Homo sapiens: one gene and its partner. The protein of the gene in region 1 purifies or fractionates together with the protein of each later gene. This does not show direct contact. Each region holds a gene or a part of one and is shown on either strand. Other genes may lie near its edges.

The links. Proteins that work in one complex are often made in the same cells at the same time.
Region 2: the proteins of DNPEP (region 1) and PEX7 purify together in Homo sapiens (co-immunoprecipitation; one large-scale study listed by IntAct). This does not show direct contact.

What each region holds. Positions count from the first base shown.
Region 1 is NC_000002.12:219,369,968-219,374,727, forward strand, and holds the end of DNPEP (aspartyl aminopeptidase), read right to left. Parts: intron 4,376-4,760; coding exon 4,325-4,375; 3' UTR 2,076-4,324; downstream 1-2,075.
Region 2 is NC_000006.12:136,825,006-136,830,080, reverse strand, and holds part of PEX7 (peroxisomal biogenesis factor 7), read right to left. Parts: intron 4,868-5,075; coding exon 4,810-4,867; intron 3,763-4,809; coding exon 3,612-3,762; intron 1-3,611. UniProt on the Homo sapiens protein: Receptor required for the peroxisomal import of proteins containing a C-terminal PTS2-type peroxisomal targeting signal. Specifically binds to cargo proteins containing a PTS2 peroxisomal targeting signal in the cytosol.

The DNA of each region.
Region 1 (4,760 bases):
GAGGAGGAGGAGGAAAAAAAAAGGAGAAAGAGGAAGAGAAGATAAAAGGGGCTGGGCGTGGTGGCTCACGCCTATAATCCCAGCACTTTGGGAGGCTGAGGTGGGCAGATCACCTGAGGTCAGGAGTTTGAGACCAGCCTGGCAAACATGATGAAACCCCGCCTCTACTAAAATACAAAAAAAAAAAGCTGGGCGTGGTGACACGCACCTGTAATCCCCACTACTCAGGAGGCTGAGGCAGGAGAATGGCTTGAACCCAGGAGGCAGAAGTTGCAGTGAGCCGAGATGGCGTCACTGCACTCCAGCCTGGGTGACAGAATGAGAGTCTGTCTCAGAAGAAAAAAGGAAAAGAAGAAAAGAAAATTCTAAAAAAGGTAAACTAATCTATAGTGACAGAAAGCAGATCAATGGTTGCTTGGACGTCAGGAGTGGAGAGAGAGATTGATTGCAAAGGGGTACAAGAGGATGATGGAAAGGTTCTGTATCTTGATTGTGGTGGTGGTTTCCCAGGTGTATATGGTATATCTGTCAAAATTCATAGAATTTTACACTTTAAGTGTATAATTTATTATATGGAAATAATACCCCAATTTTTTTTTTTTTTGAGATGGAGTTTCGCTTTTGTTGCCCAGGCTGCAGTGCAATGGCACAATCTTGTCTCACCACAACCTCTGCCTCCCGGGTTCAAGTGATTCTTCTGCCTCAGCCTCCCGAGTAGCTGGGATTACAGGCATGTGCCACCATGCCCGGCTAATTTTGTATTTTTAGTAGAGACAGGGTTCCTCCATGTTGGTCAGGCTGGTCTCAAACTCCGAACCTCAGGTGACACGCCCACCCCGGCCTCCCAAAGTGCTGGGATTACAGGCATGAGCCACTGCACCCAGCCTTCATGTATAACTTTTAACTCCCTGTAAACTTAATTACTGTTGACCAGAAGCTTTACTGATGACATAAACAGATTACCACATATGAAGTATATTCTATGTATTACACACTGTATTCTTACAATAAAATAAGCTAGAGAAAAGAAAATGTTATGCCTGTAATCCCAGTACTTTGGGATGCTGAGGCAGGAGGAATGCTTAGGCCAGGAGTTTAAGACCATCCTGGGAAATGTAGTGAGACCCTGTCTCTTTAAAAAATTAAAAAATTAGCTGGGTATGGTGGTGGGCACCTGTAGTCCCAGCTATTCAGGAGGCTGAGTGGGAGGATCGCTTGAACCTGGGAGGTGAAGGTTGCACTAAGCCAAGATCTTGCTACTGCACTCTAGCCTGGGCAACAGAGCAAGACACTGTCTGAAAAAAAAAAAAAAGGTGGGGGGGGGAGAGAATGTATTTACTATTCATTAAGTGGAAGTGGATCATCATAAAGTCTTCATCTTTGTCGTCTTCATGTTGAGTAGGCCAAGGAGGAGGAAGAGAAGGGTTGGTTGGGGCAACAGTGGGAGAAGAGGCGGAGGAGGTAGAATAGGGGGTAGCAGGGGTGGGGGTTCAGGAGAGCCAGGCATACTTGGTATAACTTTTTTTTTTTTCCAAGACGGAGTCTTGCTCTGTTGCCCAGGCTGGAGTGCAGTGGTGCGATCTCCGCTCACTGCAACCCCCGCCTCCCAGGTTCAAGCAGTTCTGTTGCCTCAGCCTCCCAAGTAGCTGGGATTACAGGCGCCCACCACCACAACCTGCTAAATTTTGTATTTTTAGTAGAGATGGGGTTTCACCATGTTGGCCAGGCTGGTCTCGAATTCCTGACCTCATGATCCGCCCACCTCAGCCTCCCAAAGTGCTGGGATTACAGGTGTGAGCCACCGCACCTGGCCGGTATAACTTTTATTGGGACAAATCCACATGTAAGTGGATGAATTTGAACTGCACAGGTCCATTTATATGTGGATTTTCTTCCACCTCTGGGGTAACATTTCTATCACCCTCTTAAAAGTTTTCTTGCACCCTTTTGCAACCAAACTCTCTCTCAATCCTTGACATTCAAGCAACCACTGGTCTGCTGTCACTATAGTTCAGCTGGCATTTTCTAGAATTTATCCCATGGGAAAAACCAAGGCAAATGTACAATGATATATGTACATTTATCTCAATGTTATTTAGAGTTGTCAACTGGAGAAAAACTTAAATGACCATTATTAACAGACTGAATAAATAATGACCATCTATACAATAAAATACTGTACGCCAATTGTAAGAGTAAATACAGTGTGAGGGTAAAATTTTTTACATAAGTAATACATGGTACATTCTGTTATACAAAAGGAAACCATTACAAAAAGGCTAAGGCCCTTTTGTCACTCCCAACCCAGAAGATCACTGTAAAAGTTTCAGGTGCATTTTTCCAGGCTTTTTCTATACATGTATACATCTACGTGCATATTTATATACACATAAAAATATATAATAATTTTTTTTTTGAGACGGAGTCTGGCTCTGTCGCCCAGGCTGGAGTGCAGTGGCTCAATCTTGGCTCACTGCAGCCTCTGCCTCCCTGGCTCAAGCTATTCTCCTGCCTCAGCCTCCCGAGTAGCTGGGATTACAGGCACCCACCACCACGCATGGCTAATTTTTTTTGTATTTTTAGTAGAGAGGTTTTCACCATGTTGGCCAGGCTGGTTTTGAACTCCTGACCTCAAGTGATCTGCCCACCTCGGCCTCCCAAAGTGCTGGGATTACAGGCATAAGCCACCGTGCCTGGCCATATAATGTTTTGAAGGTACTCCTTGTCCTGTGTCCAGTTCTGCAACCTGCCTTTTCTACTCAACAATGTCTTTGTAATCTCTTCATGTTAGTACACACACTATACAATTTATCTTTTTCTCAATAGCTACCTATAATGGACATTTCATAGTGTATTTGGGCTTGCCTTTACTGAGAAATCTTTAGATGAATTCTAACTTTTTGCCATTGCTAAATTAAATTTATATGTATTGATATAGAAATATCTCTATATTATATTAAGTTTTTTAGAAAGCTGAAGTGGAATATTTATATGGAAATAAACTTTTATATAGGTATCAAAAAGATTGGAAGGACACCAGTTTGCACAATTATTTTAGTGGAAGGAAGGAGGTTGGTTTATAAGCAGGCTTTGACTTTTTCTTTTTCTTTTTTTTTTTTTGAGAGAGTTTCACCCTTGTTGCCCAGGCTAGAGTGCAATGGCAGGATCTTGGCTCACCACAACCTCCGCCTCCTGGGTTCAAGCGATTCTCCTGCCTCAGCCTCCGGAGTGGCTGAGATTACAGGCATGTGCCACCACGCCCGGCTAATTTTGTATTTTTAGCAGGGACAGGGTTTCTCCATGTTGGTCAGGCTGGTCTTGAACTCCCGACCTCAGGTGATCCGCCCACCTCAGCCTCCTAAAGTGCTGGGACTACAGGCATGACCCATCACGCCTGGCCTTTTTTCTCTGAGACAGAGCCTTGCTCTGTTGCCCAGGCTGGAGTGTGGTGGCTCCATCTCAGCTCACTGCAACCTACGCCTCCTTGGTTCAAGCTATTCTCCTGCCTCAGTCTCCTGAATAGCTGAGATTACAGGTGTGTGCCACCATGCCTGGCTAATTTTTTTGTATTTTTTTTTAAGTAGAGATGGGTTTCACCATGTTGGCAAGGCTGGTCTTGAACTCTGACCTCAAGTGATCCACCTGCCTTGGCCTCCCAAAATGCTGGGAATACAGATGTGAGCCGCTGCACCCGGCCAGACTTTGACTTTTCCAATTTTTTCAATGATAATCTTTTTTCCTGATAATATGTTCACAATCAAGTAATACCAGGGACTGCTGAGAAGTGGATGATGAAGGGTGATAAGGTATAGACTGTGCCCTTCTCTTTGCAGCTCCTGAGAGGGGATGGGAAGGGATTTTGGGAGGGTGAGAAACAGCTTTGTCTGCCCAGAGCAGCTCTGAAGGTGGCCCAGTGCAGAACAGGATCTCTGAAGGCAGAGCGGGACACCCATTCTGGGGATGGAAAGAGGGAAGACCGTTGAGGCCATTTCCCAGGTGGAGGACTAGGGGTGGGAGAAGTGACCTTCTGCTTGAGGATCCAGTCCACCCTTCACCCACTTCAGACATGGACTTGAGACAGAGAAGAGATTTAAAACCAGATTTAAAACCATCAGCTCCCAGGAGTGTGGCCTCCTCCACCTGCTCCCCAACTTTTCTGGTTCCAAAGGTTCAAGCCAGGCTCAACTCCCACTCCTCTAGTCTCCAAATAAGCGTAGCACGGAGAGTCTGAGTGACAATCCACTTTAATAATCCAGCTTCAGCTCAGCTGAGAACTTCCCCTCTCAGGTGCAAAGGGATGGCAGAGAAGTCTTTCCAAGAGGGCTCAATCCACTAAGAGATTATGGCTTAGAGAAGGGAACAGCTCAAAGAAGCCCTATAATGGGAGGCAACATGGAGTTTGGAATTAGTGAGTGACCAGATGGAGATGTCCTGCCACCCACCTCCCACCAACATATGTTCCAGCAAGAGAAGCACCGAGGTTTCATCTGTTCTTGACAGCCACCCCAGTCTTCTCAGCCCTGATCCCCTCTTCCCATCCCCTCATTTTCCATTTCTTTGGGTCAGGGCCCCTGAGCCTTGAGAAGAATAAGGACCGTTGTTTTATCTCTTTTTTCTCTTTTGTAGAGACATGGACTTGCCATGTTGCTCAGGCTGGTCTCAAACTCCTGGCCTCAAGCAATCCTCCCACCTCCCCAAGTGTTGTCATTATAGCATGAGCCACTGTGGTTGGCCAGGACCCTTGTTTTCCTACATGGCCC
Region 2 (5,075 bases), on another chromosome or scaffold:
ATATACTCTCTTCCACAGAAGAAAATGACCCATTAGTTGCTCTTCTATTTCACAACACAGCTTCCCTGAACATACTGGTGGAAAAAAAAAAAACAGAAATTGGCTATGTTCATTATCAACTTTTTTTTTTAATAACTTTCTTTTAAGACAGGGTCTCACTCTGTTGTCCAGGCTGGAGTGCAATGGCACGAACTCAGCTCACTGCAACCTCCACCTCCCATGCTCAAATGATTCTTGTGCCTCAGCCACCAAATAGCTGGGACTACAGGTGTGCACCACCACACCCAGCTAATTTTTTTATTTTTAGTAGAGGCGGGGTTTTCGCCATGTTGGCCAGGCTGGTCCCAAACTCCTGGCCTTCAGTGATCTGCCCACCTCGACCTTCCAAAGTGTTAGGATTACAGGCATGACTCACTGCACTCAGCCTCATTTATTAATTTATTCAACAAATATTTACTAGCTCCTTAAAACTCTCATTTGAGCTTAAATCCTTTTAAGTATTTTTGAGTATCTGGCATATGCAATGGACTGAATATATCCCCACAAAACCCACATGTTGAAATCTTAACCCCCCAGTGTAATGGTTTTAGGACGTAGGGCCTCTGGGGGGTAATTAGGTCATGAATGTAGAGCCCTCATGAATGGGATTAGTGCTCTTATAAAAGGGATTTCCCAAACCTCTCTCATTCTCTTTCCACCACCTGCAGATACAATGAAAAGACAGCAGTAGTCTTTGACCTAAAAGAGGGCCCTCATCAGAACCCAAACATGTGGGCACCCTGACCTTGGACTTCCAACCTCCAGAATAGTAAGAAATAAATTTCTGTTCTTTATAAGGCACCCAGTCTATAATACTTTGTTACAGCAGCCTGAACAGACTGAGGCAGAAACTGGTGCCAAGAATTAGGGGTGCTGCTGTAACAAATACCTAAAAAGGTTATCTTCATTTATTTTTCACATAACCAAGCAAAATATGTGAAACAGTAAACTCTGACTGTTGAAGCCATTTAATTGTTTTCTATTACACTAACATTCAAGGCATCCTGATACAAACGCTTACCAAAAAGTGCATTTGAAAAGAAAACGAGGAAGTCTAACTAGAATAGCAGTACGCAAAACAAATTTAAAAAATTAAAAAACAGAAGTGTGTCTTCGGTTCAAGAAATCAGCTGCAAAATCACAGAATGATGTAAAACTGGTTTAATAGCAGTTCAAATAACAAAAGAGGTAAGTGTGTTACTAGCAGACTCAAAGTAACCTAACACTAAGACATGGCTGAGAACAATGTATAGCCACTTTAGGTAATATTATTAGAGCTAGGGGCTCAAGACTATGGTGGTAAAATCTTATAAAGCTTAGCCCTTCATCACATTTCTGGAATAAATTAGGTATATGTTGAAAGGGGAGTTGAAAAACAGGATTATCAAAGGAGGCTATCAGAAGGATGAAAGACGTACAGATCATGTCATCTGAGGACAGGACAATGAAATGACAAGTGCACAGTCTGGAAGAGAGCACGATGGCTATTTTCAAGAGGTTTCCTGGACAAGAGGGGCTGGACCTGGTCTTGCCACTTCAGAGAAAGACACTAAAAGCAGCAGTTGGTTGCTATAGAAGGTAGAGTTGGGATTACAAGAAGCAGTTTCTTAATAATCAGAACAACCTAAAAGTCAAATAAGTTATCTCAAGAGAAAGTGAAATTTACTTTCACTGACAGGAAGTAAAGACTGAGTGAGCATCCATCCAGGATATCCTAGAACAGTATTTTCCAGAGAGTAGTTACACCAGAGATTATTTTAACTGGTACATACATTTATTTTATTCATTACTTACTTATCTCAATGTACACTAAAAACAAATAAATGTACATACTAAAGTAGCCATCAACCCCATTGTTTCATGAATATTACTGTTTTAGGATAAATGAAGCAACGACTTTACTTGATTGAAAGAAAAACATTAAGTCAATATATTGAATTTACCTTAACTAGCTATATTATTTTATGATGTCAGTTATCATCCTTGAATTTATATAGATAATAAAAGGCACCAAAGATTTAAGAAAAAGGAAAAAAAAAACTTCTGAAAAGAAAAATATTTTTTAAAAAAGAAAGAAGGAAAAGAAATACATTATAATACAAGTGGTATAAAAAGATGTCAAACATCACAAAAACTAGCCTGGGCAACATAGCGAAACTCCATCTCTACAAAAAAAAACAACAACAAAAAAACACACACACACAAAAATTGGCTGGGCACGGTGGCTCACGCCTATAATCCCAGCACTTTGGGAGGCCAAGGCAGGTGGATCATGTGAGCCCAGGAGTTCAAGACCAGCCTAGCCAACATGGTGAAACCCGTCTCTACTAAAAATACAAAAATTAGCAGGGCACGGTGGCGCACGTCTGTAATCCCAGCTACTCGGGTGGCTAAGACATGAGAATGGCTTGAGCCCATTCCAGAAGGTGGAGGTTGCAGTAAGCCAAGATTGCACCACTGCACTCTAGCCTGGGCAACAGAGTGAGACCCTGACACACACACACACACACACACACACACACACACACACACACACAAATTCACACAGGTTCCACAAAAGTATCTGAATTTTGGACATACTGTTCTGTAGAGATTCGTGCATTGATTATCCTGAAACTAAAATTTCTCCTTTACCAAAATTGTCTTAATATTCAGTAATTCCCTGAAAACATAGTAATTTACAACTACATTTATTCAAATAGCTATCATAATTAAAATAGAAACTAAAATTTTTCATTATTTCAGTAACAATCTTAGAAATCTTGATTGTCAATAGCTACAGCTATAAAACATCTGGACCCCTCACATAACTAATCTTTACCACAAAAGACTGATATTCTTGCATCTAATAAGCATTTATTGAGGGCCTTCTCGGGCCAGGCACTGTGGTGGACAAAAATTTGAAAGTAGATTAGCAAGTTTTCATCTGAAGGATGTACTGCTCCCTTAAGGAAAATCTTAAAACATTTAAGGTAAAAACACAAAAAGAGGATGTCTTTATGTTCACTGAAAATATACATGTATGTTAGTACAACTGAAGCCCAAACTATTTTCTATGCTATACATACACACACACAAAATCTAGACACATGAACCAGATTTAGATATAAAATCCCTTCAGTAAGTTCTGCCTCATACTCAGTATTTTATGCTCTTGCTCCAATATACTCTGAAACACCTCGGGAATCTCACTGAAGCCCCAAAGGCAATCTTGTGATGTCTATGTGAAAAGTCCACCTACCTCTACCTTAAGGCACCATGTGGCAAGCACATTCTTAGAGCACAAAGAAAGTGATGGGCCTCTCAGGAGGAAATGGTGCCAGAGTACACTGCTGGAGGTGTTCTTTCTGCCTAATGAGAAGACTGACCTTTTCTTTTCTTTCCCCACTCCTTAGGCCAAGAGGTACTTTATGTTTGAATAATCAAATAATAAGTGACATCTAGTATGTATAAGAAATGCTAACGTTTAAACTTGTCCCCTGAAGATATTTCTCCATGTGTCCATCCCCAAATGGATTTCAACCAAAGTCGAAGAAAGAAAAATAATCAGCCCAGAAAGATTTCCCTCCTACCTCCTGAGCGTGTTCTTTATAGACTTGCAGTGGCCCTGCAGCTTTGGCAGTGTCCCAGAGCTGCAGCGAGCCATCGCCACTACAGGTGATGAGGACATGTTCGTTGTTCTCACTCCAAGTCACATCAAACAAACCATCATTCCAGTCAAAGCTACACTAGGAAAAAACAAACAACAAAAAAATACAACACTTACATAGGCAGCTACACAACAAAAAAAATAACAATTATGGTTTTTTTTCTTTCAATTTATCACACATTTTAACACGTATATCTCATGTAATCTGCACAACTACGGGAGTTAAGTAGAGTAGGTACTTGACAAATATGGCAACAGATTCAGAAAGGTTAAAAAAAACAGTCCAGTGGAATGTAGTAGTCCAAAAATGTAATAGTACACAGTATACTGCTCCACATTTTTTTATGTTTAAATTTTATAATTTATGAGTGGACACTAAGAGACAGGCTTCAGATTTGTTTTGTTTTTTATTTGAGAGAAAGAGTCTTGTTCTGTCATCCAGGCTGGAGTGTAGTGGCCCAATCACAGCTCACTACAGCCTTGAACTGGACTCAAGCAATCCTCCCACCTCAGCTTCCCAAGTAGCTGGGACTACGGCCTAAAAATTAAAAAAATTTTTAGGCTGGGCCCAGTGGCTCACGCATATAATACCCACTTTGGGAGGCCAAGGTGGGCAGATCACCTGAGGTCAGGAGTTTGAGACCAGCCTGGCCAAAATGATGAAACCCCATCTCTACTAAAAAATACAAAAATTAGCCGGGTGTGGTGGCGGGCACCTATAATCCCAGCTACTTGGGAGGCTGAGGCAGGAGAATCACTTGAACCCAGGAGGGGAAGACTGCACTGAGCCAAGATGGCGCCACTGTACTCCAGCCTGGGTGACAGAGCCAGACTCTGTGCATAAAAAAAAAAAATTTCTTTTAGAGACGGGGTCCTCCTATGTTGCCCACGAGGCTGGTCTTGAACTCCCGGCCTCAAGTGATCCTTCTGCCTCAGACTTGGGAATAGCTGGGACTACAGGTGCGCACCACCACAATCAGCTAAAAATAAGCTTCATCCTATGCAAACGCCAAGGTTCCTTTTATACTGTATATTAAAACATTAATCAAAGAGTCAAAACCTAATTCTATTAAGGCTTTAATAGCAACAATATATACCTTTAATAATTTCAGCCCCCTTACCTTCTAAAAAGCCTTAGCCCAGCTTCATCTGGATCCAATATTAGTAGGGTTCCACAGCCTAAAGAGAAAAAAAATCAAGGTCATCCCTTTGAACCTGCCAGGGTAACATCGAAAGTCAAGGAGTTATCAAGTAATTGATACCTGATTTTAATACCACAAATTTTTCCCCAAAGTATTTGGGACCTTGAATACCAAATGGTCAGGTGATCAATTTCTCCCTAAAGTTTTTGGGACATGAATACCAAATGTGTTCTCTATTTCTGTTT